Homo sapiens: one gene and its partners. The protein of the gene in region 1 purifies or fractionates together with the protein of each later gene. This does not show direct contact. Each region holds a gene or a part of one and is shown in the gene's direction. Other genes may lie near its edges. The genes, in order: PTPN21, AMOT, DDX54, POLR1B, CREB3L2, ACAD8 and EIF2S3B.

Region 1 (3,500 bases):
GATATCTGAAAAAAGCATCCAGGAAAGTGTACCCAATCCTAATATAATTCTCCAGGTTGGAGTGTGTGTGGATACAGCTTACATATCTTGGCCGTGATTCTCCAGAGTGATTCTGGAGTTGGGAAGGTGGCACTTTGTTAAGGCAAATCCTGAGACGTCCAGGTTTCTTAAATTTAAAAGAAAGATGAATTCAGCTGAGAATCTAAGGAAAGTCCCCGGTAGAAGATGCAGTTCTTTAATATTCAGCCTAATAAATAAATATGAATTAAGCACTTTTTACCTACTTTGAAGCAAAATATAAAAAAGCATAGTAGCATCATCTCTAGCTACCATCCTTGGAGCATTTGCCATGGGCCAAGCATTTCCTCTACTTTTGTGGCCTATTTACAGTAAGCCTATTGTTATGCCTGTTTTACAGATGAAGAAACAGACTTAGATATTAACTAACTTTTCCAAGGTCACATGACTAGTGAGTGACTGAACTGGAATTTTAAACCCATACTTAGAAGCCCATTCTGTTATCATCTACACTGTAGATGTATGTTCTGCATTGAAGTATACTGTATATGTTCTATTAAGTCATAATTGCTTGTTGAAGCCTTGCTAGTCTTTCACTGAAACTTTTAAACTCAGTCCTTAACCTGGGACTAAGCATCTGCGGCCTTGTCATGAAGTGTGTCCACCGAAGTGATTTTGTTGCAGTGCTCAGGCTTCCAGCTCTTCCTGGCCCACATCTCCACTCCTCATGCCCTGCACTTGAGCCAGGCTAACTTGATTAGGGCCTCCATCCTATCTCCTGTTGGCTTCCAGTGTCCTGGCAACTAGGGTTCTCCTCCCCCCATCGCTGCTAAACTGCAAACTCCGACAGGACGGCTCATCTCAAGTGTGGTTCTGGCCTAGTGTATGACATCCTTTAAGATGCTGCAAACATCTTGCTAAACAGGAAAAAACGCACACTATTATAGTACTTATGAAAGAGATTAATGTACATAGACAAAAACTACTTAACAAAAAAAGTACCACAGATTTAAATTTGCTTTTTTTTTTTTTTTTTTTTTTTTAGAACAGTCTTGCCCTGTTGCCCAGGCTGGAGTGCAGTGGTGTGATCTCAGTTCACTGCAACCTCTGCCTCCTGGGTTCAAGCGATTCCCCTGCCTTGTGATCTGGCTGCCTCAGCCTCCCAAAGTGCTGGGATTACAGGTGTGAGCCACCACACCTGGCCTAAATTTGCTTTCTTTTAATAAGTTTTGGGTTTGAATTTTAAGTTGATTTTTAAATTTTTCACAAGTATGCAACATAACTCACATCCCTGAACAGTAAAGGCCAATGCCTTCAGTGGACACAGATTTAAGAGTGTAGGGAGCAGTGATTCAGGATAAGGTGTGGGTAGATTTTCCAAAGTAACTCTACCTGAATCCCTGAGCCAGCTGGACAGGGTCCTTTTATAGTTAACACCCTTCCCATTGCATTAAGAACGGTCTGTTTTTATGTGTGACTCACGTACTTTCCCCAAATGCTATCTGAGTACAGCTCAGTACTCAGGCCTATTTTATCCCTGTATGTTTTGAATGGGGTCTGGTAGGTTCAGTTAAATCTGAGGACTTTGATCAATTTGGTTCTCTTAAAAGAACTTTTCTCTCCCATTGACTTTTAAGACCACAATACTAGTAAAATTATGTGATTGGATTATGTTTTTGGTCCTTTTTGCTTAAAGGATTCTACTTAAGGAATGGGTATGGCAGCTGTGGTCACGAGGAAAGAGCAAAGGTCCTACAAGTTAAGAACGTTGGGGCTGAGTCTAGAGCCTGCCATTTGTTAGTTCTCTGTGACCACGGTCAGGACCCTTCATGCGTCAGAACCTCAGCTTCCACATCAGATAACCTCAGATCATGAGGACGGTCATCCCTTCGCTGCCTGCTTCGTGGCATTATGTCCCACATGCAGTTAGGCATGAAAAAATGCCTCCTGAATTACATGATTCAGTGTAACTGATTTTAACCAAAGATTTGCTTTTATTTGTTTTGACACTGATTACCTTGTAAAAGAGGCAGCCATGTGACCTCAGACAAGCTATTTAATCTGTGACTCAGTTTTTACATTTGTAAATGAGAGGACCCCAGAGAGTTGTTGGGGGGATAAAAATGAGGTTCTGGCACATTGAAAGAGATTAGTCAATATTAACATTACTGTGAGGTGGCATCATATATTTAACTTAATGGCTTTCAAGAGTGGAAGAGGCCAATTCCCTATTGTACCCTCTGACCTTTCATAGTAACATGGGGTTGCCATTATCTTAATCGTTACAACAAATTTCCTAATGTGAATTAAGGTTATGGAGGTTTAGTATTAAAAACAGTGAAATAAACTGTAGACAAGTAGGAATGATTTTAGAATTCTCCACCCATCTCCACCTCCAGCAACCTGATTGTTATCTTAAAGGCAGACTGGTTTGGGTGCTCATATATCTACATAAAGATTTTCTTTTTGTTGTACCCTTTAGTGCAGTGGTTCTCACATAAGAAATCACTGTGCAGGGTATGCATTAAAATCCTGTGCTTATATTCTAAGGGCTAATTAAGGCATATTCAAGGCTAGTTTTGACTACATACAACATTCTTCCAATACTGGCTTTTGAACTGACCTCACAGCCAATCAGCTTTATCCAGCGTGTCCCAGTGTGGGATATTTTGAGTCATTTTCAGGCAGAGAAGTGCCAGAGCTAGTTCATATTGACTAGCAAGAGCCGACTTAAATGTTCAGGAACCTTGTGAGCCAATTGATGTGACATTAACAGTTTGAAATTGGCTGTGATGGGAGTATTTACACCATGGATATGGGCAAACACCGATCAAAACTTCCTTCCAAGAGCCTGTTGTTAAATATTACCAGCACATCACTGTTTTCTGCACGTTAGAATCATTAAATTTCAGCCTAAGCAGGAAGTGTTTAGTCTGTATGCCTGTGTCTGGATATATCTGTCTCTTTCTGTCTAGGTGAGGCTTACAGAGGAAAGGTGACTTGCCTGAAAGAAGTTGGTCAGTTAGAGGCCAGATGTGAACCCAGGCCTCTGCTGTTTATAGTCTAGACTGCATTATGTGGGGAGCTCATGATCAAATATTAATTATAAAATTAAAAATTAATCCACTTAGCTTATTGAGTTAGGTACCAATCACAGTCTCCAATTACAGCAGCAATCTTTTAGGATTTTTTTCCTCTCTCACCAAGTTGCCTTTTCCCTCTGTTCTTGCACCATTATCATGGGGCTTCATGGCCTGTTACAGGCTGAGAGAGCTGGAATAACACGGATTTTGTTTACAGGGCAGAACCATTATTTTCCAGTTGGGGCTACTCATTATATTGATATCATCCAAGGAAGTGTAGTATATCCAACGAAACTTAGTGTTCTTTTTTTTTTTGGAGACGGAGTCTCACTCTGCCTCCAGGCTGGAGTGCAGTGGCACGATCTCAGCTCACTGTAATCTCCACCTCCCAGGTTCAAG
Region 2 (3,500 bases), on another chromosome or scaffold:
CACCTAAGTTATCTGTGGATTTCTCTTTCTTTCTGTCCTCAAAAGCAACAGAGCCCATGATGATCTACCCTTGTTGAGCAGCATTTTAATACACAGTTTTGCTGTAACAGGTTTTTCTCTATGGGAAAGGAGCAGAGTGCTTGATAATGCTTGATGAATAAGCAAACCTAAAATGGCCCTAGTGGGAGGATGCTCCATATGAAATTTGGGTCTGCATCAGGCAAATACTGGCCGTAAAATTGTTGCAGGGCCCTACATGAGGGAGTGGCACCTATTGACAAATTACTGGCAAAAGGAGGTAGTTGAACTGCTTTCCAGAAGTGTACTGCTTTAAGGTGGTGACACATTTTCCCTCCTTTATTTCCTTTAACCAACTAGCTATACAGTTTGTGAGTACCTTTCCAAGTAACTGCTGCTAGCAGCAACCAATTAGAAGACTACATTCTGAGCCCTTAATCCACAAATTACAAGTCAGGATGCAAAGCAAACTCTTTGAACAAATTGCTGTTAAGAAAACATTTGCTTGCTTTTCGAGGTGCAGTGAACTGCTGGAGATTTGCTGTTAAAATGAACAAAATTATAAACAATCCTTTTATTACTTCATCTTTCTTATGCCCTCCTCCCCTTAAAAAATAAATACCTTGAATGCCCAGAACCCCAGATGAGAAACAAGGCAAAGGCTATCTGAATAATTTTAAAATTTCAGAATCTTTGTCTTTCTAAGTGCTGAACCTTTTCTGCATCCTGGGTTTATACATTTATCAACTGCTTTTAAAAATTAAATCATTTCTGTTTATAAAGCAGCCACCTCCTTTCAATTGTTGAAATCATGCCCAGATCTGAGGTTTCTTGAAATCCTTGTTTAGTGGAATCTAAGGGTGACCTAACTCTGTAGTTCAGAGCAGAGCTGGTTGTGCAAGAGAAACCATCAGGAATTTGCAGCCTGCTCCAGGATTCACAGATTCACCGATTCACCATTGCAGAGCCTGGGAAAGGCAGTTTCTGTGGTGAGGATCAATCAAGTTCCAGGCTATTGGGTGGCACCTGCTCTGGTGAGAGTGTGTGTGCAGGATTGCACATGTGTGTGCCAGGAGTGTGGAGTGTGTGTGTGCATGCACATGTGTGCATGTGTGTGTGGCTGGGGAGGGTGAGGGCTCCCAGTCATCGAGGTGGCAGGGTGGAAGGTGCTGTGTCAGCTGGGTAGAGTGGCTTTTACTTTCCCTTTGAGTCCTTACTACTGTCTCTGGGAGGAGTGTACCCCCCACCCTACCCCACTTCCCAGCTTTGGGGAGGATCCTGATTTTAGTCACTGGCCTTTGTCCTGCATGTATGCTATGTCCCCTTTTCTGCAGAGCCCCAGTGGCCCAGGTAGCCTTAGGAAGGAGCAGGATGAGGGGACGGAAGTGGCAGGAGGCAGGTCAGGGCTTGCATGGAATCATGTGATTCTGTTGTCTGCAGGCGGCTTGTTGTTCCTGGTTAACGTGTCAGTGGGGAGCGATTCAGGCTGCTGTGTGCTGGAAGGACCTGGAGAGTGTGCTGCTCACATGGCTGCCACCTTTATTATTACTGTCATTACTTTTACTGTTATTATTTAACTTGGGGTGTATTTTGGCTTCCTCTGACATCCGCCCCCTCCAACTCTCCCTTACCCCGTCATTCCTTAATCTCTTTTTCTCACGGGGAGCTTCACCCCAGTGTTCATTCCGTCCTGCTTTCCCCTGGTGGGTGGATGCTGGAGCCCAGATTGAGTTCTTCACTGAAGGGCTTTCTCTCCCTTTGTGACTGCCCAAGCCATTGCTGGTTTGCAAACCAGCCAGTGACGGGCTGCCTTGGTTTTCCCAACATCACGGTGCACTGAGATCTGCTTCCTTTTCCAGCCTGGGGAATTGAGGGGCAGCTGCCTTGTCTCTGCTTATCTTCATCCTCAGCTTATCTGACCCCAGAGACCTCCTTCTGGAGACCTCATGGTCTCCTCCTTCCCAAGGTCCCTGGAAGGCCATGTGCTGTTGTCCAGGGAATGCAGGGGCCTTTCAGTCTCCAGGCAGGAGGGAGGCCAGTGGCTGAGTTTGTTTGAGAGAGAGGCCTGGGTTGCTTGATGAGGCCCAGGGGAGCTGTGGAGAGAAAGCCCATTTCAGAACTGGGCGTTCAGTCTTTAAAAGAGAATACCTCCCAGGCCTTGGACTGCAAATCCTGGGAACAAAAATGAAGGTTAATATAGTGATTTTTTTCCCTTAAAATTTGAGAGCTGCATTGGAGAACATGAAACTTAAGCCCCTCTTTTCTGCCCACAAAGCAGAAAAGAGACACACAAGCCCCAACAAATCTCAGGACATTATATTTTAACTCTGTAGGCATGTAGAAATTGTAATAGCTCTCATTCAAAGAGAAAAAAGAGCACTTAGTCTTTTACCTGTGAGGAAACTGAAGATCCATAGAATGGAAAATAGGAGCTCTTCACCAAATAAATGTATAAATAACTCCCAGGCTTTTGATTGAATGAGTGCTTTGAGCTCTGGGGAAAAATATTATGTATGGCAGCAACTTTCCAGTTGTACTTATGAGTACCATGTCAATTCTTCTTTGCCCAAATAGTTCGCATGCCCTCTTCAATATTCAGCAATTATTTATAATGACAGATGTATGTGATTGGAAGAATGTGGGTACACCAGAGGCATAGATGGGCCTGAGCGACAGAATCCAGGGTTTGTACAGGTTTGAGGACTCTTGGGGAAGATGTAGGTTATTGGGTATCCATGAGAAAGTGTTTGGAATGATTTTGTAGCTGTAAAAAGCCCTTATAGTTAAGATCTCTTGTAAAGATGGATACATGAACAGTAATGGTAACTGGAGTGTGTGTCTGAGGAATGTGCTTTAGCATCTGGAATGCCAGTTAAAAGTTAATTGCTCCTGGTGATTTGTCCCAGTTCCACCATGAATTTTATGCAATTTATTGCAAAGATTAAATGGATATCCTTTAAGTAACAAGCTAACAAGGTCAGCTTATCTCACTGGGAGGTAGAGAAGTGACTGTAATTCCTATTCCGCCAAAAATGAGAAGACCCCAGTATTTTTGCAATTTATTTGTGACCTCAAGAATAAAATGGGCTCATGCAGATTAAGTAACTTGCACCAAGTTACACAGCTCGTGAGCAGTAGAAGAGGTCTCCAGACTCCCTCTGTTGGGATCCAGATCCCATGCACTTAGCCATCTGTCTTCCCTGGATTGAGAAATATCAACTGTAGAACAAGTGTCCACAGGACATGGGAGCATATGAGGTTAATTGGGCATGAGCTAGGGCATGAACAAGCTTTTTGTCTTCAGTGCACACTGACAGATACTATTCCTGGTAGTGGTGATGGTGGAAGTGATCCATCCACATACTAATTGTTTCCCTTAATGGCTAATAGTCATTAGGTATGAATTATTTATACTTAGGTGTTAGCATTTTGTACCTGGTAATTAGGTACAAAAATGGGAGAGCCACATTAAACAATGTACC
Region 3 (3,500 bases), on another chromosome or scaffold:
CATGGCTCACTGCAGCCTTGACCTCCTGGGCTCAAACGATCCTCCTATCTCAGCCTCCTGAGTAGCTGGGACTACAGGTGCATGCCACCACACCCAGCTATTTTTTTTTATTTTTTGTAGAGATGAGGTCATGTTGCCTAGGCTGCTCTCAGACCCCTGGGCTCAGGTGATCCTCTTGCCTCAGCCTCCCAAAGTGCTGAGATTACAGGCGTGAGCCACGGTGCCTGGCCTGGGTCTCTCTGTGTTTTTGTTTGGTTTTGTTTTTGAGATGGAGTCTCGCTCTGTTACCCAGGCTGGGGTGCAGTGGTGCAATCTCGGCTCACTGCAACCTCTGCCTTCTGGGTTCAAGTGATTCTCCTGCCTCAGCCTCCTAAGTAGCTGGGACTACAGGTGCCCACCACCACACCTAGCTAATTTTTGTATTTTTAGCAGAGATGGGGTTTCGCCGTGTTGGCCAGGCTAGTCTCGAACTCCTGACCTCAAGTGATCCACCCGCCTCAGCCTCCTCAAGTGCTGGGATTACAGGCATGAGCCACTGCGCCTGGTCTGGGTCTGTCTATCTAATTGTGAAGTGCAGATAATGGACACTGGGGAAGACTTGGGGAAGAACGCCCATAGGAAGCCCACCAAGTGGTAAGGGTGGGGTTAGGAGTAGGAGGCCAGTGGGCAAAGGACTGGGTGTCCCCTCCACAGACTATCTTTGAGATCAACGCCTCCAGCCGAGACCTGTGCAGCCAGGTGATGCGCGCCAAGCGGCAGAAGGACCGCAAGGCCATCGCCCGCTTCCAGCAGGGACAGCAGGGGCGGCAGGAGCAGCAGGAGGGCCCAGTGGGCCCAGCCCCGAGCCGCCCAGCACTGCAGGAGAAGCAGCCTGAGAAGGAGGAGGAGGAGGAGGCGGGAGAGAGTGTGGAGGTACAGGTTCCACCCTGGGGACCCTGGACCTGGGGTATGGGGAAGGGGTGGCTAAGTCCCAGCAGCCCATGAGGCTGTCCTAGGATCTTTGAGCAGTGGATGGAGGTGGATGCAGTCAGCTTCCCATCTGCAGAGTCGGGGCATGGTTCTTGTCCACCATCCCTCGTTTAAAACTCTGGGGCCAGATCTTTAGCCTGAGGAGCTGTGCACGACATGACACCCTCAGTGGGGTCCGGGGCATCACCAGCCACCAAACACATCAGGGCTTCTGCAGTGAGACGTGTAGGTCTCCACTCAGAGGGAGGACCATGAAGTGTCCCATTCACCTGGTGGGTGGGTCCTGGGCCTGTGCGTCCCCCAGGATGTCCCTCTCTCATGTTTTGTTTGGACAGAGGGTTCAGTAGCCAAGAAGACCAGTTGGAGACCCCTGGCCTAGTCCATGTTGTTCAGAGCAGGCCAGGCGCAGAGAGGGGCAGGGCCGGCTGTCACATAGCCTGGGGTGCGGAGCTGGAATGGGGAGTTGGGTCTCCCTCGGCCGGCACTCTCCTCCTCACCCAGCTGTCCTGCCTCTGCTGGTCCCTGAGGCAGGGGTTGCACTGTGTGTGCAGATGAGGAAACTGAGGGTCCCACAGGAGACACTGTCACCCAGCTAAGAAATGGCAAAATGAAGCTTTGAAAGTCCCCGAGAAGCCACTGGCCCCTCACTGTGGCCAGGCTGGTGGGTAGGGAGGCAGGGGGAAGTCCCCAGGGGGCAGCAGGCATGACACTGGGCCTTGGTCTGTGCTCTGCCAGGACATTTTCTCAGAGGTCGTGGGCCGGAAGCGGCAGCGGTCAGGACCCAACAGGGGAGCCAAGAGGCGGAGGGAGGAGGCCCGGCAGCGGGACCAGGAATTCTACATCCCCTACCGGCCCAAGGACTTTGACAGCGAGCGGGGGTGAGTGGCTGGCTGGGTCCTGGGTGGGGCAGTTGGGTCCGCTGGGTCCCATCAATCCAATTATGTCTCCCACTCTCCCTCTGCAGCCTGAGCATCAGCGGGGAAGGGGGAGCCTTTGAGCAGCAGGCAGCTGGCGCTGTCCTGGACTTGATGGGGGATGAAGCCCAGAACCTGACGAGGGGCCGGCAGCAGCTCAAGTGGTGAGTGATCGAGTGAGCCGCCCCTCCATGCTCGGGGTGAGTGACCGAGTGAGCTGCTCCTCCGTGCCTGGGGTGAGTGATCGAGTGAGCCGCCCCTCCCTCCATGCCCGGGGTGAGTGAGTGAGTGAGCCGCCCCTCCATGCCCGGGGTGAGTGATCGAGTGAGCTGCCCCTCCAGGCCCAGGGTGAGTGAGAGAGTGAGCTGCCCCTCCATGCCTGGGGTGAGTGAGCGAGTGAGCCTCCCCTACCTCCATTCCCTGAAGTGAGTGAGCGAGTGAGCCGCCCCTCCATTCCCTGGGGTGAGTGAGCGAGTGAGCCACCCCTCCAGGCCCAGGGTGAGTGATCGAGTGAGCTGCCCTCCATGCCAGCAGGCAGGGTGAGCTCCCTGAAGTCCTCACTCCCATCTGATCCTGCACAGCCCAGATTATGGCCTGGCTGTCCCCCATGTGACCACTCACAGCAGGTGTGATGGCCCCTGGCTGTGCTGTCCCCTTGATTTGATCACACACCACAGAGATCTTGACCCCGTCTATTCTTTTTGCTGGCAAGTCTTTCTAGACAGGGCTCAGGACCCATTCGTTCAGGACTCTAGCGTCTGGAGAGTGTATGTGACTCAACCCAGGGTCACAGCTGGGTAGGGGGAGGGGATTGGAAACCCTCCAGGAGGCCCTTGTCCCTGAGCCAGGCCCCAGTGCTGGCGGCAGTCCTCTGACCTCCGCACTCCCTTTTGAGACCTGGACTGCAGGGAGAGGTGAGGAGGGATAGGGAAGAAGCCTTTATTGAGCGCCAACTGCATGCCAGACATGGCTGCACTGCTTTCCTTTAATGCTCCAACAACCTGACAAGAGGGTCGGGTGAGGAGACAGGCCCCAAGCGGCAGCCGGCACTCCAAGGGTTTCCCTCCACGGCAGCCGTCCCAACTCCCTCTCCTGCAGGGACCGTAAGAAGAAGCGGTTTGTGGGACAGTCAGGACAGGAAGACAAGAAGAAGATTAAGACAGAGAGCGGCCGCTACATCAGCAGCTCCTACAAGCGAGACCTGTATCCTGAGGGGCGTGGCTGGGGAGGGGCGGGGCCGAGGAGCTTCAGCAGGAGCAGCTTCAATTAAGTGGAACCTGGGGGCGGGGGCGGGGGCGGGGAGGAGGGGGCGGGGCTGAGCGGCTTAAGCAGCCGCATCTCCAATAGATGGGACCTGGTGCTGGGGGCGGGGCCGAGCAGCTTCAGCAGCAGCATCTCGAACTAGTGGGACCTGTGCTGGGGGCGGGGCCCAGCAGCTTCAGCAGCAGCATCTCCAGTAAGTGGGGCCTGTGCTGGGGGCGGGCCCAGCAGCTTCAGCAGCGGCATCTCCAATAAGTGGGACCTGGTGCTGGGGGCGGGGCCGAGCAGCTTCAGCAACAGCATCTCCAATAAGTGGGACCTGTGTGCTGGGGGCGGGGCCGAGCAGCTTCAGCTGCG
Region 4 (3,500 bases), on another chromosome or scaffold:
TTTTCTATGTTTATTAGTTGCTATTCTGTAAGGGAGGGCTTTCTTTTCTATTAGTTGTTCATTTATTTATGTTAGCGTAGATTTATAGATGCTTGTTTAATTTTGTGAATATTCTGTTACTACTTATTTTGATGCTCAGAAAGTGTATGAGATTTGATCTAGTGTACAGTTGAGGGTTTTAAGTACATTCATGTTGTGGAGTCATCACCATCTTCAGAACTTTCTCATCATCACAAATTGAAACTCTGTAACCATTAAACAATCATTCCTCTTTTTTTTTTTTTTTGAGGCAGAGTCTCGCTCTGTCGCCCAGGCTGCAGTGCAGTGGTGTGATCTTGGCTCACTGCAGCCTCCGCCTCCCATGTTCAAGCAATTCTCCTGCCTCGGTCTCCCAAGTAGCTGGGATTACAGGTGCACACCACCATGCCTGGGTAATTTTTATATTTTTAGTAGAGATGGGGTTTCTCCATGTTGCCCCGGCTGGTCTCGAACTCCTGACCTCAAATGAGCTACCTGCCTCATTAGTCTCAGATTTTATCTTTTTTATAGAGAATTTATTTTCATTCTCTTTTTTTTGGTTAGCATTGTGGAGCATCGGAGGATGAGGACACTTAAGATCTGCTCTCTTAGTAAATTTCAAGCATGCAATATAGTATTCTTAACTATAGTCACATGCTGTACATGAGATCTCCAGAAACTTAATTTTGTTGCATAACTGAAGCTTTATACTCTTTGACCAACATCTCCCCGTGTCCCCCTCCACCAAACATTCTCTCATTTTTAATGATAATGCATCTAGCTGTGAATCCCCATGAGTTCTGACACATGGGTTTGTTGTTGTTGTTGTTGTTGTTGTTGTTTTCAGGTTTCTGTAATTTAGGTTTTTATTTCTCCTTTCACCCAGGAGTTTGTTGGAGTTTTTTTGTTTTGTTTTTGAGACAGGGTCACTCTGTCACCCAGGCTGGAGTGCAGTGGCATGATCATGGCTCACTGCAGCCTCAACCTCCTGGGCTCAAGTGATCCTCCCACCTCAGCCTCCCGATTAGCTGGGACTACAGGCACGTACCACCACACTCAGGTAATTTTTTAATTTTTGTAGAGACGGGGTTTCATCATGTTGCCCAGGCTGGTCTTGAACCTCTGGGCTCAAGTGATCCACCCACTTTGGCCTCCTAAAGTGCTGGGATTACAGGTATAAGCCACCCCCGGCCCACCCATGAGTTTTTGGTTTATTAAATTTACAAATAAAACCAGTAATCTACTGTATTTTAGATCACAGAGGACAGAATTTCCTTTAGTGTATCGACACGTGCATTCATGGTGTGCTTTATCCTTAGCCTCAGTAGTTAGTGATTTGCCTACTAGCTGGGGTGAGCACCCAAGGAAGTAGGGCTTTTACCATGGCTGAGTGTGGATGAGTGGTATTCCATGGGGCATAAGACTGGCAGCGACAGCCATGGCCTTGGGACAGGTTTGTTAAACTCTGTTTTTGTTAAAAACAGGTGTTGAGAGAGAAAAGAATTCCTCCCTGGATGGAAGTGGTCCTTATACCCATGACAGGAAAACCAAGTCTGTACCCAGGATTGTTCCTTTTTACCACTCCTTGTAGACTGGTACGGCCTGTGCAGAACTTAGCATTGGGCAAAGAAGAGCTAATTGGAACTATGGAACAGGTAAATACATATGTGTGATGGATGAGTGTATGTGCTTGTTTGTATAGTATACAACTTTCAGAGACTTAACTCTTCCTTTTTTAAAAGGGTTGTTAATGTTACAACAACAGTTGGACATTTGAAAGAAAGTCAGACTTTCCACCTCCTCTATGATCAGCACAGAGCAATTTCCATGTCTGATCTCACTCCACAGAACCTGAGAGAGGGCTGGTGGTCACATTACCTGCCTCCCATCTTATCTAGCTCCCAGAACTCCTTTGTACCTGGCTCTGCCTCAGCCGTGAAGTGAAAACATTCCATTAGATTCACACTCAGTCTTTGCCTACATATTTACAGTTGCAAAATTATAGGCTTTGTGCTACTTAAAAATTTTTCTTCCTATTCCCCTTCACAATTGGTCTGGGGTAGTTTTAGAGTGAGATACGTAAAGCAAGTGGTATTTCTAACTGGTCGCTTCCCTGTGCTTCCCAGTTGATCCCTTCAGCACTCATGATGCTGGGTGGGGATGGTTTTCTCTTGAGTCTTTGAGTACTGAACTCTGAGAAATGGTAAGAGTAAATGTGTAACCAGTTGCAGTTATTTTGTGCCTTGGACATCTGCTCTTCCAGATCTTCATGAATGTCGCTATCTTTGAGGATGAAGTTTTTGCTGGAGTTACCACACACCAGGAACTCTTTCCACACAGCCTGCTGAGTGTGATTGCCAACTTCATCCCTTTCTCTGATCACAACCAGAGTCCACGGAACATGTACCAATGCCAGATGGGTAAGGAAGAGGGATGATGTTACAGTCACAATCAGGAAAGTAAACTTGATACTAGCACACTCTTTTATTGTCCTTATTTACATATGCTGACCATTTGTTCCAAAAATACAGTTTATGGCAAGTTTTTCTTTTTTCTGTGCCACAAGCAACCAGCCCAGGATCACTCATTGTATTTAGTTGGCATGTCTATTTAGTTTCCTGTAATTTATGACAGATCTTTAAACATTCTTTGTCTTTGACATTGACATTTTTGAAGAAAAAGGTATAGAATGTCCATAGATTTGGGTGTGCCTGAGGTCTTATTATTTGATTTTTTGAAGAATACAAGCAATTATAGTCACCCGCATATTTATCACTTCCAGTCCTCTTCATTCCTGCTGCAAGATTCAAGTTTTCATTGTATACAATTTTCCTTCAGCCTGATAATCTTCCTTTAGCATTTTTTTATAGTGCAGGTTGCTGGCCACAAATTCTCTTTGTTTTCATTTATCTGAAAATGTCTTTATTTTGCTTCACTTGAAGGAATCTTTCACTGGATATACAATTCTGAGTTGACAGTTATTTTTCTTCCAACACTTAAAAGTTGTTGTTACACTGTCTCTTCTTAGTCTCTGTCATTTCTAGTTAGAAGGCAGCAGTCTTCTGAATATAGTGTGTTTCTTTTTTTTTTTTTTTGAGACAGAGTCTCGCTCTGTCGCCTAGGCTGGAGTGCAGTGGTGTGATCTCGGCTTACTGCAACCTCTGTCTCCTGGGTTCAAGTGATTCTCCTGCTTCAGCCTTCCAAGTAGCTGGGTCTACAGGGACTCACCACCACACCCAGCTAATTTTTGTATTTTTAGTAGAGACGGGGTTTCACCATGTTGGCAAGGCTGGTCTCGAACTCCTGACCTCAGGTGACCTGCCCACTTTGGCCTCCCAAAGTGCTGTATTACAGGCGTGAGCCACTGCGCCCGGCCTCAAATTTTGTTTTTTTTCAGTTTAATTAAATTGCTAAACTCTTCTGTCATTATTTTTAAAAACATTGCTCCTATCCTTTTCTCTCTTTCCTCCTCTTCTATCAGT
Region 5 (3,500 bases), on another chromosome or scaffold:
TCACAGCACACATTTTCCGAGAATCCTTGAGACCCAAGAGAAAGCATCTGCTCATAAAATCTTTCCACTTTGCCATATGCACTGGGTTTGGGGGTGGGGGATGAGGATGAGGAGGAGCTTCAACTCTTTACACCACTCACAGGGAACTCTTCCCGGGTGCTCTAACTCAGGAGGGTGTGTTGTCAGATCCTTTTCTATGCCTTGCAGTGTTCAGAATTTGCAAAGAATTTTACCATCTGCTCTGTGTGCTGATGTCACACAGAGCAGAGTATATAAGACTGTTCTTATCCCTCAAACTTTGCCTTTTAAGGAGAGGCACAGTTGTCCAATTTTAGGGATAAAACGTCTCCTTTTTTTTTTTCTGCTCTTGCTCTCTTGTCTTTTTCCTGGAGAAAGGCTAGAATCTGTTTCAAAGGATGGTTTTAAAGACCCTTGACTCTGGGCTTGAGGGTCCAGTTGAGCAGGCATCTTTGTTCTTTCATATGTTGGCTTCGTTTCCTGACTCTGGAGGTGCTGTGAGCGTTTAAGAACCACAGGCTTGAGCTGCAGGTGGCTGTTTGCCTCTCTGCCTTAAACAGAGCCGTTCTTGTTTTTCCTCTCCTTTCTCTCTCTCTCTTCTAACCTGCCTGTGAATGCCTGTTACTCTGTGTTGGCATTTCCAGTCACAGCCCCCACCTCTGGCCTTTCTCTCTCTCTTCTAACCTGCCTGTGAATGCCTGTTACTCTCTGTTGGCATTTCCAGTCACAGCCCCCACCTCTGGCCACTCCTTCTGTTGTTCTCTGCTGGTCATTTTTTATTTTTCCTTCTCTTTGCCTTTGTCCCTTTTTTATGTTTTTGTCAATGTTTCTCATCTCTTGCTTAAATGAGTTCTTCTTTTAATCGACATTTTCTTAGTCTGTTCAGGTTGCTATAACAAAATGTAATAAACGAGGTCACTTACAAACAACAGAAATTGATCTCTTACAGTTCTGGAGGCTGGGAAGTCCAAGATAAAAGTGTTGGGAGATTCCGTGTTGGGCGAGGGCCTGCTTTCTGGTTCACAAAAAGCAGCTTCTTGCTGTGTCCTCTCATAGTGGAAGGGAAGCACTCTAGTCTTTTCAGCTCCTTATAAGGGCACGAATCCCATCAATGAGGGCTCCATTTATGACTTAATCATCTCCCAAAGGTGCTGCATCCTAATACCGTCACATAGAGGACTGGGTTTTAGCATAGGAATTTAGGAGAGACACAACCATTCTGACTTTAGCCACCATCCAATCAGAGTGTTCCTTTTCCTTTGTTCTCAATCGCTGAGAAACAAGCCACAGCCTGTCAGGGGTAATGTGGAGGCAGTTACCTCTAACTCAGGGCAGTGCAAGAACAGGACTTTCAAGTGTGAAGGCTGATTCTGAGCCCCAGTGAGCTCTGTGACAATGGTGCTAGAAGGTACTGGTGTTCGTATCTTCTTCCAGAGGAAACTGTCCCTTGGGGCTCTGTTGAAATGCAGGCACAAAGGCACGGCGGCCTTCTTGGGTCACATGGAGAGATCAAAAAGCATCTCTTCTCTGTCAGACTCCCCTCACGGCTGTTGTTATCATTGGCAGGACTCTCCTTCAGCAACTCCAGAAGCTTCAGACTTTGGTGATGGGCAAGGTTTCTCGAACCTGCAAGTTAGCTGGCACGCAGACTGGCACCTGCCTCATGGTGAGCTTCCCAGCAGGGTAGCACAGTGACCGCCCCTGGCCTGGCCCCTGTCTCCCCTCTCCCTCCACTTGCCAAGGCCAAGTGCTGTGCTGTAGGAGAAACCACATGGAGGAACTCCACTCTGAGGCTGTTCCTCGGTGAGGCACTCTGGTGATGTGACTGGTGGGTGCAGTCCACTGGCCTGAAGAGGAGAGTCTGTGTCCCTGGGTATAAAGCTGTGCTGTCCAGAGGCTGAAGTCCACAGCCCCTCGTGTTCTCTCTCCCCTCTTTCTCTCCCACAGGTTGTGGTGCTGTGCTTTGCCGTTGCATTCGGCAGCTTCTTTCAAGGCTACGGGCCCTATCCTTCTGCCACCAAGATGGCTCTGCCCAGCCAGCATTCCCTGCAGGAGCCCTACACAGCCTCCGTGGGTAAGACAGCATGTGGCAAGTTGGGCAGGGTCTTGTTTTATTTCCCTAGAGCTGGGTTTCTCAGTCTTCCAAAAGGAATCTTCTGTGAAAGTCCAATGTTTAAAAAGTGGTAAAAGTGGAGCTTCTCCCTTTGAAGAGGCAAGTGGGGGTTCCCCTGGGGCCCCTCATCCACTGGACTGCGGCATCACTGGGAATTCTCCAGAGCTTGACAGAGCACAGTTTGCAAACTGCTGTTCTAGACTGTGTTCCCTGATCCATTCTGACATCTAATTTTTGAGTTCTGATAAGGGAGAGGGAAGCAGATGAGGGAAAGAGTCTGTCGCTTTCTGTGACGTTTTAAGAGAACTGCTGTGTTTCTGCCTCCACTGAGTGGAATTGTATGAGTAATGTAATGCAATGTATATAGTAAGGGCTTGTAAAGTGAAATTAAATAAACAGCAAGGTCAGGGCCGGGCGTGGTGGCTCACGCCTGTAACCCCAGCACTTTGGGAGGCCGAGGCGGGCAGATCACGAGGTCAGGAGATTGAGACTATCCTGGCTAACACTGTGAAACCCCATCGCCACTAAAAAATACAAAAAAATTAGCCGGGCGTGGTGGCAGGTACCTGTAGTCCCAGCTACTGGGGAGGCTGAGGCAGGAGAATATTGTGAACCTGGGAGGCGGAGTTTGCAGTGAGCCGAGATCGCACCACTGCACTCCAGCCTAGACGACAGAGCGAGACTCCATCAAAAAAAAAAAAAAAAAGAATCAGCAAGGTGAGGAGTTCAAGACCAGCCTGGCCAATATGCTGAAACCCCGTCTCTACTAAAAATACAAAAATTAGCTGGGCATGGTGGTGCATGCACCTATAGTCCCAGCTACTTGGGAGGCTGAGGCAGGAGAGTGGCGTGAACCTGGGAGGCGGAGGTTGCAGTGAGCCGAGATCGTGCCACTGCACCCCAGCCTGGGCGGCAGAGCAAGACTCCATCTCAAACAAACAAACAAAAAGAATCAGCCTGCCTTCCAAAACCTTATGCCCAAGATCTAGAGAATATGGGGACTCCGGTGTCAGATAAGAAGCGTATGGTGTTCTCACCTAGAAATAAAGGGATGGTGAGTAAGGAATACACACACAAATTCACACCTACACCTATAGGAATGAGCATGGGGTTAGGCAGTACAGTAGTCCCCCCTTATCTGAGGTTTTGTATTCTAAGCTTTCAGTTACCTGTAGCCAATGAACATACCTGCAGTTACCTTAAAATAGCTGAATACACTATAGTAAGAAACACTACCTGCAGCCAATAAAAATACCTGCAGTTATCTGAAAATAGCTGAGTACACCACCATAAGAAATTTTGAGAGAGAGAGGCCACATTCATGTAACTTTTATTAGAAGATATGGTTAGAATTGTTCTATTTTATTAT
Region 6 (3,500 bases), on another chromosome or scaffold:
GCTTAGAGAAGACCTGGTGTTGGCCACAAGTCTCAGTAATGGAAGGCGTGTGGTCCCTTTTGCTTCTTTGATTAAAAATAAAGTAAAACTCATTGGAGATGATTGTGGGTATTTCAGCAACCCAAGAAGGACACTTAGGTACTGTAAGTAATTTGAAAAGTAAGATACTTCTAGGATTAAGAGCCGCCATGGCCAGGGCATGAACAGGAGACTTGTGATCATGTAACCGTAATTGGTAATAAGGGCTCAAGACCCATTCAGATTTTTTAGACCAGATGCTCAAAGCAGTCATCTCTCTCTAGTTTGTACTGTTATGGGGGGACTTTGTGAGAGAAGGCAGGTAATGAAATGACCCCTAAGTGTACCTCTTTCTCACAGCTCCTCGGGTTTCTGTATTTTCCTACAGGATCCTTCCTGATCCTCTGTAACTGTAAGGCATTATGCATTTTAGCATCCCCTTCTCTTTGGTAACACAGCAACCATTTCCTAGGCTTCTACTGTGTGTGAAGCCCATGCTAACTCCTGGGCAGGAAGACCTTCAGTAAAAGGCTTAGAAATGGAGTTTATCCTATCAACAAAAGAGAGCAAGGAAATGATGTAAAGGCAGTCTATTTTCAGAGCCAGAGAGGAACTGGGAGATTGTAGATAGTTTGTGGTTTTCAATTAGAGGCACTGAAATTGGGGGCAGTTGGTGTCACAATCCTAAAAGAAGTTGTGAGAAGTGTTTGTAGGTTAGTCAGGTAGAGTAGACATTAGTAGATTCTCTTAATAAGTTAGAAAATGTTTAGCTGAAACAGGTATCTTTCTGAGTGCTGACAGGCCTTTAAACCTGAACTTTTTCTTTTTCCTCATTTTAAGTTCTTGTGGGTCTAAGTCTTGGGTGCTGAAACCCATACCTCACAGGCTCCCGTCCCCAGGGAAGGCCGCCCTACCTGCTGGATTGTTGGGCAACCACGCAGTCCCTGATTTTTGCCAGGTGGGGTGGAACTCCCAGCCAACACGAGCTGTGATCTTCGAAGACTGTGCTGTCCCTGTGGCCAACAGAATTGGGAGCGAGGGGCAGGGCTTCCTCATTGCCGTGAGAGGACTGAACGGAGGGAGGATCAATATTGGTGAGATACGCAGGGGTGTGGCAGGGAGGTAGCGGTCCGGGACAGGCACTGCTGTTTTCCAGCTTGGTTGGAACGTCGGCGCTCTTCCCCTCTAGCTTCCTGCTCCCTGGGGGCTGCCCACGCCTCTGTCATCCTCACCCGAGACCACCTCAATGTCCGGAAGCAGTTTGGAGAGCCTCTGGCCAGTAACCAGGTAACCTCTGCCTTGCCTCCACATGGCTTTGCACTATTTGCAGCCCGGGACCTGCTCTAGGGCCCACATTTCCAGGAGAGAAGCCAGGAAATTCCTCTGTCAGTCCCACCACTGTCCTAGCCAGAGCTTGTGCTTTATTTCTGTCCATCTTTTCTTGGGATATCTTTAACGATATTAAAGTGTCGGGTGAGTGAAGTGGACTTAGCACTTAAAAGCAATAAATTTCCTCTATAGAAAAAGCAAGAGACTTTGAAGCTTTGGATCACTTAGAAAAGGCGCCTCCGAGATGTCTTACCGAGGCTCCTGCACCAGGTGCTGGTCTAAGCCCCTCAGTCTTGTCTGGTTCTCTGCTCCCTGTGCTGCAGTACTTGCAATTCACACTGGCTGATATGGCAACAAGGCTGGTGGCCGCGCGGCTGATGGTCCGCAATGCAGCAGTGGCTCTGCAGGAGGAGAGGAAGGATGCAGTGGCCTTGTGCTCCATGGCCAAGCTCTTTGCTACAGATGAATGCTTTGCCGTAAGTGATTCCTCTGGCTCTCCTGGGATGGACAGGGAACAGCTGCTAGGCCCAGGGGTCTTGAGAGACATGAGTCAGATTTGGAACCCAGCCCTCCTGGAATCCCACAAGGATCACCTTAAGCTTAAGGATATAAATGAACTCATGAGCGGCCTATGTGGGAGCTCTCATCGCTGGCTTTTAGGCCTGCTGCATGCCATTATACACTTCATTATGTCACTGTTGTTTGGTTGTGTTCTAGGCGAGAAACCACCTTTGGAAGGTTCACAGCAGCCCCAATTTAGCACTCTGCCATGTTTACATTGTCAGGCTGCATTGCCACTAGGGGGAACCATAGCTTTTTATCATCCCAGCCAGGGTGGCTGTGGGCAGCTTCTGCCTGGCAGGTAATAAGGGAGAGGGGCAGAGGGCTTTGAGTCGCCTGTCTGGGGGGAACTGACAAGTTTAGTAGGTGAACTTCCCTTGTCTCTAACCATACAGAATGTGGAGGCCCTCTTTGAGCTTGGCTGTTTGTGGTTCTTTCATGGGTTTATGGCGGGCTGCCAGATCGTGGGCTGGGGTAGGAAGGGAAGCTGCTTGCTCCACAGTCTTCCCAGAGTCCAAGACGTCTAGTCCCTGTCTCCCTGCAGATCTGCAACCAGGCCTTGCAGATGCACGGGGGCTACGGCTACCTGAAGGATTACGCTGTTCAGCAGTACGTGCGGGACTCCAGGGTCCACCAGATTCTAGAAGGTAAAAATTGCCAGAGGTTATTCTCTTCCCTTCAGAACGGGGGCGGGATCGCTGCTTTCCCCACTCTCTGTCCCCATGCCTCCTGGGCCTCAGGGTGCAGTCAAGCCCTGTCTGTCTCGAGGCTTCCTCCTCCCTCCCGTTCCGCAGAGCTGTTCTGGCAGGGGCCTGGAGTCCAGAGCCGCAGCTTCGTCCCTTTCGGGGGGCCTCAGATCGCTCTGCTGCTGCCCTTTTCCTCTGGAGATCTGCGAGAAGGGTGAACTGAGATAATGGATGAGAAAGCATGTTGAAAACCACAGCCGGGGCTTTTCTCTAAGGTTATCGAGTACGTGGTTCTCAGGGATCCAAGAACAGTGATGGACAAGGCAAATGTGAGCCAGTATGGTCATCAGTAGCTCTATATTGATTATCAGCCAGATGGCCTAAAAGATACCTGTCTCAATATTACTAGTGTATTTTTCAATAAAATAAACCATCACTATATGGGTATCTTCTTGGTAGTCACAGACATTCTATCGAGGAAACATGGAAGCCGTTGGGGTCGGGCTCGGAGCCTGGCTGTCTCCACTCTCTACAGCCAGTGCGGAAGTCTTGAAATGACACGACTCTTGGAAAAGCAGGAGGGGCAGAGGCTTCTTTGAGTGACTTCGGTGAAGCAACGTGAGGCTGCCTTGCTGGAAACATTATATAATGGGGCTTCCCTGCCCCTTTCACAGCACCCTTCTCAAACCTCAGCCTGTGCTGGAATCGCCTGGAGGGCATGGGAGCGCAGATTGCGGGCCTCAACCCCAGAGCTTCTGCTCCAGAGGGTCTAGTGTGGGCCTGGGAATTTGTATCTGCAACAAGTCTTCAAGTGAGGCTGCCACAGCTTGTCTGAGAACCACACTTTGAGACCCACCGCTCTGGTGTTAATGTCAGAGTCACAGGCTACCACAGGTTAGACCGCTG
Region 7 (4,126 bases), on another chromosome or scaffold:
AAAGGTGTATAGAGCTTCCTCAAAAATTAAGAGTAAAACTACCCATATAACCCAATAATATCACTTCTGGGTATACAGTATATCCAAAAGAATTAAAATTAGTATCTTGAAGAGATATCTGCACTCCCACATCAATGGTAGGATTATCAAGAATAAATAATATTTAAACAACCTAAATGTACACTGACAGATGAACAGATAAAGAAAATGTAGTATGTACATATGATGGAATATTCTTCAGCCTTAAAGAAAGAATATTCTGCCATTCATGACAACATGAATGACCCTTGAGGACATTAAGCTAAATAAAATAAGCCAGTCACAGAAGAACAAATGCTTTATGATTATACTATATGAGTTATCTAAAGTAGTCAAATTCATAGGAACAGAGAATGGTGGTTACCAGGGACTCACTTTCAATTGGTTAAGTTTCAGTTACGAAAGACGAATAAGTTCTAGAGATATACTGTACCACATAGTACGTATAGTTAGCAACAATACGTTGATCACTTTAAAATCTGCTAGGAGGGTAGATCTCATGTCAAGTGTCTTACTTGCCCTCTGCTCCCAAAATAAAGGTACTCAAGAAAAACTTTGTAGATGATAAACATGCCTACTATCTTCATTGGGTGATGGTATTACGAATGTATGCATATGTCCAAACTCATCAAATTGTATACGTTAAAAATGCACAGTTTTTTTGTATATAAACTATACCTCAATAAAGCTATTGTAATAAATCTCCAATATAGCATCTATTAATGGTCATCACTCCAACATAATTTGAAGAAATGAAAATTATAATATAAACCACGACATAGCTATTTGTTTCGAACAAAAAATAAATATATTAATAATTAATCTTCTTAAAGAAGAAAAATATTTAGTGTAGAATTATTCAGTGTGTTGCTGGTTTTGTGTCTTCTTAGAAATGTAATAGCAGGCTGTATATACAAGATCCATTTTCATATAAATAGATTACAATGGTCCATTAATTTTTTAAGTATTTATCTGTGGTCAACTGAAAATATATTTTCGACCCGCCTCGCATGGGCCCAGGGGGCGGGGGTTTGGGTGGCTGCCCTCAGTATTGCCTGCACAAATATCTACCAAGTCTGCGACGAATAGCTCCAGCAACTTTGCACCGTGTTTTCCAGTAAGCCTACCGACAGGCACTGTGCAGATTCAAGCAGAGAGAAGTCCAAGCACTGAGGCCGCTGCTGCACCGGCCATCCTGAGACCCTAGTCGACCTTCCGGCCTCCGCATCCCCGCCCCGCACTAGGACCCCTGCAGACGATCAGGCGGCAGCCGGGGTGACTTTCTTCCTCTTTTGGCAACATGGCGGGCGGAGAAGCTGGGGTGACTCTGGGGCAGCCGCACCTTTCGCGTCAGGATCTCACCACCTTGGATGTTACCAAGTTGACGCCACTTTCACACGAAGTTATCAGCAGACAAGCCACAATTAATATAGGTACAATTGGTCATGTAGCTCATGGGAAATCCACAGTCGTCAAAGCTATTTCTGGAGTTCACACCGTCAGGTTCAAAAATGAACTAGAAAGAAATATTACAATCAAGCTTGGATATGCTAATGCTAAGATTTATCAACTTGATGACCCAAGTTGCCCTCGGCCAGAATGTTATCGATCTTGTGGGAGCAGTATGCCTGATGAGTTTCCTACAGACATTCCAGGAACCAAAGGGAACTTCAGATTAGTCAGACATGTTTCCTTTGTTGACTGTCCTGGCCACGATATTTTGATGGCTACTATGCTGAACGGTGCAGCAGTGATGGATGCAGCTCTTCTGTTGATAGCTGGTAATGAATCTTGCCCTCAGCCTCAGACATCTGAACACCTGGCTGCTATAGAGATCATGAAACTGAAGCATATTTTGATTCTACAAAATAAAATTGATTTGGTAAAAGAAAGGCAGGCTAAAGAACAATACGAGCAGATCCTTGCGTTTGTCCAAGGTACAGTAGCAGAGGGAGCTCCCATTATTCCAATTTCGGCTCAGCTGAAATACAATATTGAAGTTGTTTGTGAGTACATAGTAAAGAAAATTCCAGTACCCCCAAGAGACTTTACTTCAGAGCCCCGGCTTATTGTTATTAGATCTTTTGATGTCAACAAACCTGGCTGTGAAGTTGATGACCTTAAGGGAGGTGTAGCTGGTGGTAGTATCCTAAAAGGAGTATTAAAGGTGGGCCAGGAGACAGAAGTAAGACCTGGTATTGTTTCCAAAGATAGTGAAGGAAAACTCATGTGTAAATCAATCTTTTCCAAAATTGTTTCACTTTTTGCGGAGCATAATGATCTGCAATATGCTGCTCCAGGCGGTCTTATTGGAGTTGGAACAAAAATTGACCCCACTTTGTGCCGGGCTGACAGAATGGTGGGGCAAATACTTGGTGCAGTCGGAGCTTTACCTGAGATATTCACAGAATTGGAAATTTCCTATTTCCTGCTTAGACGGCTTCTAGGTGTACGCACTGAAGGAGACAAGAAAGCAGCAAAGGTTCAAAAGCTGTCTAAGAATGAAGTGCTCATGGTGAACATAGGATCCCTGTCGACAGGAGGGAGAGTTAGTGCTGTCAAGGCCGATTTGGGCAAAATTGTTTTGACCAATCCAGTGTGCACAGAGGTAGGAGAAAAAATTGCCCTTAGCCGAAGAGTTGAAAAACACTGGCGTTTAATTGGTTGGGGTCAGATAAGAAGAGGAGTGACAATCAAGCCAACAGTAGATGATGACTGAAGAATACCGGTTAAATAATACATTCGGATGGAGCTGGAAGTTGCAATTTCTCTTTAACAACCAAGGGGTTTATTTTCAAAGCGATATTGGGGAATTGATTTCACAGTTTGTTACCTTAGTAGGTAACGGTAAGGTTATTCTCTCTTTTTTTTTTTGGTTATGAAAACTTAGGGACTACAATTAGTATAAAAATTGGCATAATGTTGGATTGAATCTACATTTTGGCAGAAGTTAAGCATTCCCACATAATGTCAAAATTATACATTATGCAGTTTTTTTGTTTGTTTTATTTTGTTTTGTTTTTGAGTCTGGCTTTGTCACCTAGGCTGGCATGTAGTGGCATGATCTGCAATCTCTGCCTCCCAGGTTCAAGCGATTCTCCTGCCTCAGCCCCCCAAGTAGCTGAGATTACAGGTGTGTGCCACCACACGGGGCTAATTTTTGTATTAGTAGAGACGGGGTTTCGGCATGTTGGCCAGGCCAGTCTCTCCTGACCTCAGGGTGATCAGCCCACCTCGGCCTCACAAAGTGCCGGGATTACAGGCGTGAGCCACCTTGCCTAGCCCACATCATGCAGTTTGAAATGAAACTTTGCCACAACCAGCCTTTGCTGTAGCACACACATATATCACTGAAACTGTTCGAAATAAAGTTTTTTTTTGTTTTTCATGATTCGTCTTTGAGTACCTCCAGGCTGAAGGACTGTTGTACCAGTAAAAACTTAAAGGCACAAATTATCCTTGAAGACCTTCTCCCTTTTCTTTGGCCCCATATTTTATGTTGCTTTATCTTTGAAATTTTGCATGAAAAGGATGCAATGAATGGGTTCGAATTGCATGAAAAGGATGCACGAATGGGTTCGAATGAAATTGTCCTTTAGAGCATGATTACTTGTTCCCATGGGCAAATAATTTTCTCCCCTTGCTCTTCCTGGCCTGAAATACGGGAAACTAGAGTCAGAAGTTATCTCCCTCTCCCTGTGATGCCTTGAGATGTTTTTCTGCATTGTTTTATGCCTGAAATCCAATAGTCTTCCTCCATTGGAAAATACTGTTATACCAAATAATTCTAGATGAGTAACAAAGATCCTTCTAGGCCTTCATTTTATGTTTTTTCTTAACTGTTATATGATTGTGACACAGATTATAATATTACTAATTTTTGGATGTTTCAAAAGGTCAATAAGTAAAAGATGTTAGAAAGCAAAAAAAAAAAAAAAAAAAAAAAAGAAAATATATTTTCTATCATGTTCTTCTGATAAAGTAATTCAAACTTTAACCAGCCCTGAAGACGGCATTGTGATTATACATCCCTGGGTTCTCCTGCTGACCTAAAGTAATATTAATCTCCATATATAACATTAAAATA

The links.
Region 2: the proteins of PTPN21 (region 1) and AMOT purify together in Homo sapiens (affinity purification with mass spectrometry, with the first as the bait; one large-scale study listed by BioGRID). This does not show direct contact.
Region 3: the proteins of PTPN21 (region 1) and DDX54 purify together in Homo sapiens (affinity purification with mass spectrometry, with the first as the bait; one large-scale study listed by BioGRID). This does not show direct contact.
Region 4: the proteins of PTPN21 (region 1) and POLR1B purify together in Homo sapiens (affinity purification with mass spectrometry, with the first as the bait; one large-scale study listed by BioGRID). This does not show direct contact.
Region 5: the proteins of PTPN21 (region 1) and CREB3L2 purify together in Homo sapiens (co-immunoprecipitation; one large-scale study listed by IntAct). This does not show direct contact.
Region 6: the proteins of PTPN21 (region 1) and ACAD8 purify together in Homo sapiens (affinity purification with mass spectrometry, with the first as the bait; one large-scale study listed by BioGRID). This does not show direct contact.
Region 7: the proteins of PTPN21 (region 1) and EIF2S3B purify together in Homo sapiens (affinity purification with mass spectrometry, with the first as the bait; one large-scale study listed by BioGRID). This does not show direct contact.

What each region holds. Positions count from the first base shown.
Region 1 is NC_000014.9:88,475,008-88,478,507, reverse strand, and holds part of PTPN21 (tyrosine-protein phosphatase non-receptor type 21), read left to right. Parts: intron 1-3,500.
Region 2 is NC_000023.11:112,816,832-112,820,331, reverse strand, and holds part of AMOT (angiomotin), read left to right. Parts: intron 1-893; exon of another isoform or gene 894-1,007; intron 1,008-3,500.
Region 3 is NC_000012.12:113,161,479-113,164,978, reverse strand, and holds part of DDX54 (ATP-dependent RNA helicase DDX54), read left to right. Parts: intron 1-693; coding exon 694-912; intron 913-1,704; coding exon 1,705-1,847; intron 1,848-1,933; coding exon 1,934-2,047; intron 2,048-2,981; coding exon 2,982-3,086; intron 3,087-3,500.
Region 4 is NC_000002.12:112,566,465-112,569,964, forward strand, and holds part of POLR1B (DNA-directed RNA polymerase I subunit RPA2), read left to right. Parts: intron 1-293; coding exon of another isoform or gene 294-431; intron 432-1,502; coding exon 1,503-1,673; intron 1,674-2,281; coding exon 2,282-2,438; intron 2,439-3,500. UniProt on the Homo sapiens protein: Catalytic core component of RNA polymerase I (Pol I), a DNA-dependent RNA polymerase which synthesizes ribosomal RNA precursors using the four ribonucleoside triphosphates as substrates.
Region 5 is NC_000007.14:137,883,587-137,887,086, reverse strand, and holds part of CREB3L2 (cyclic AMP-responsive element-binding protein 3-like protein 2), read left to right. Parts: intron 1-1,584; coding exon 1,585-1,684; intron 1,685-1,965; coding exon 1,966-2,092; intron 2,093-3,500. UniProt on the Homo sapiens protein: Transcription factor involved in unfolded protein response (UPR).
Region 6 is NC_000011.10:134,260,068-134,263,567, forward strand, and holds part of ACAD8 (isobutyryl-CoA dehydrogenase, mitochondrial), read left to right. Parts: coding exon of another isoform or gene 1-6; exon of another isoform or gene 7-97; intron 98-976; coding exon 977-1,112; intron 1,113-1,207; coding exon 1,208-1,305; intron 1,306-1,670; coding exon 1,671-1,823; intron 1,824-2,064; exon of another isoform or gene 2,065-2,209; intron 2,210-2,452; coding exon 2,453-2,555; intron 2,556-2,702; coding exon of another isoform or gene 2,703-2,812; exon of another isoform or gene 2,813-3,033; intron 3,034-3,268; coding exon of another isoform or gene 3,269-3,429; exon of another isoform or gene 3,430-3,500.
Region 7 is NC_000012.12:10,504,564-10,508,689, forward strand, and holds EIF2S3B (eukaryotic translation initiation factor 2 subunit 3B), read left to right. Parts: upstream 1-1,326; 5' UTR 1,327-1,339; coding exon 1,340-2,758; 3' UTR 2,759-3,962; downstream 3,963-4,126. UniProt on the Homo sapiens protein: Member of the eIF2 complex that functions in the early steps of protein synthesis by forming a ternary complex with GTP and initiator tRNA.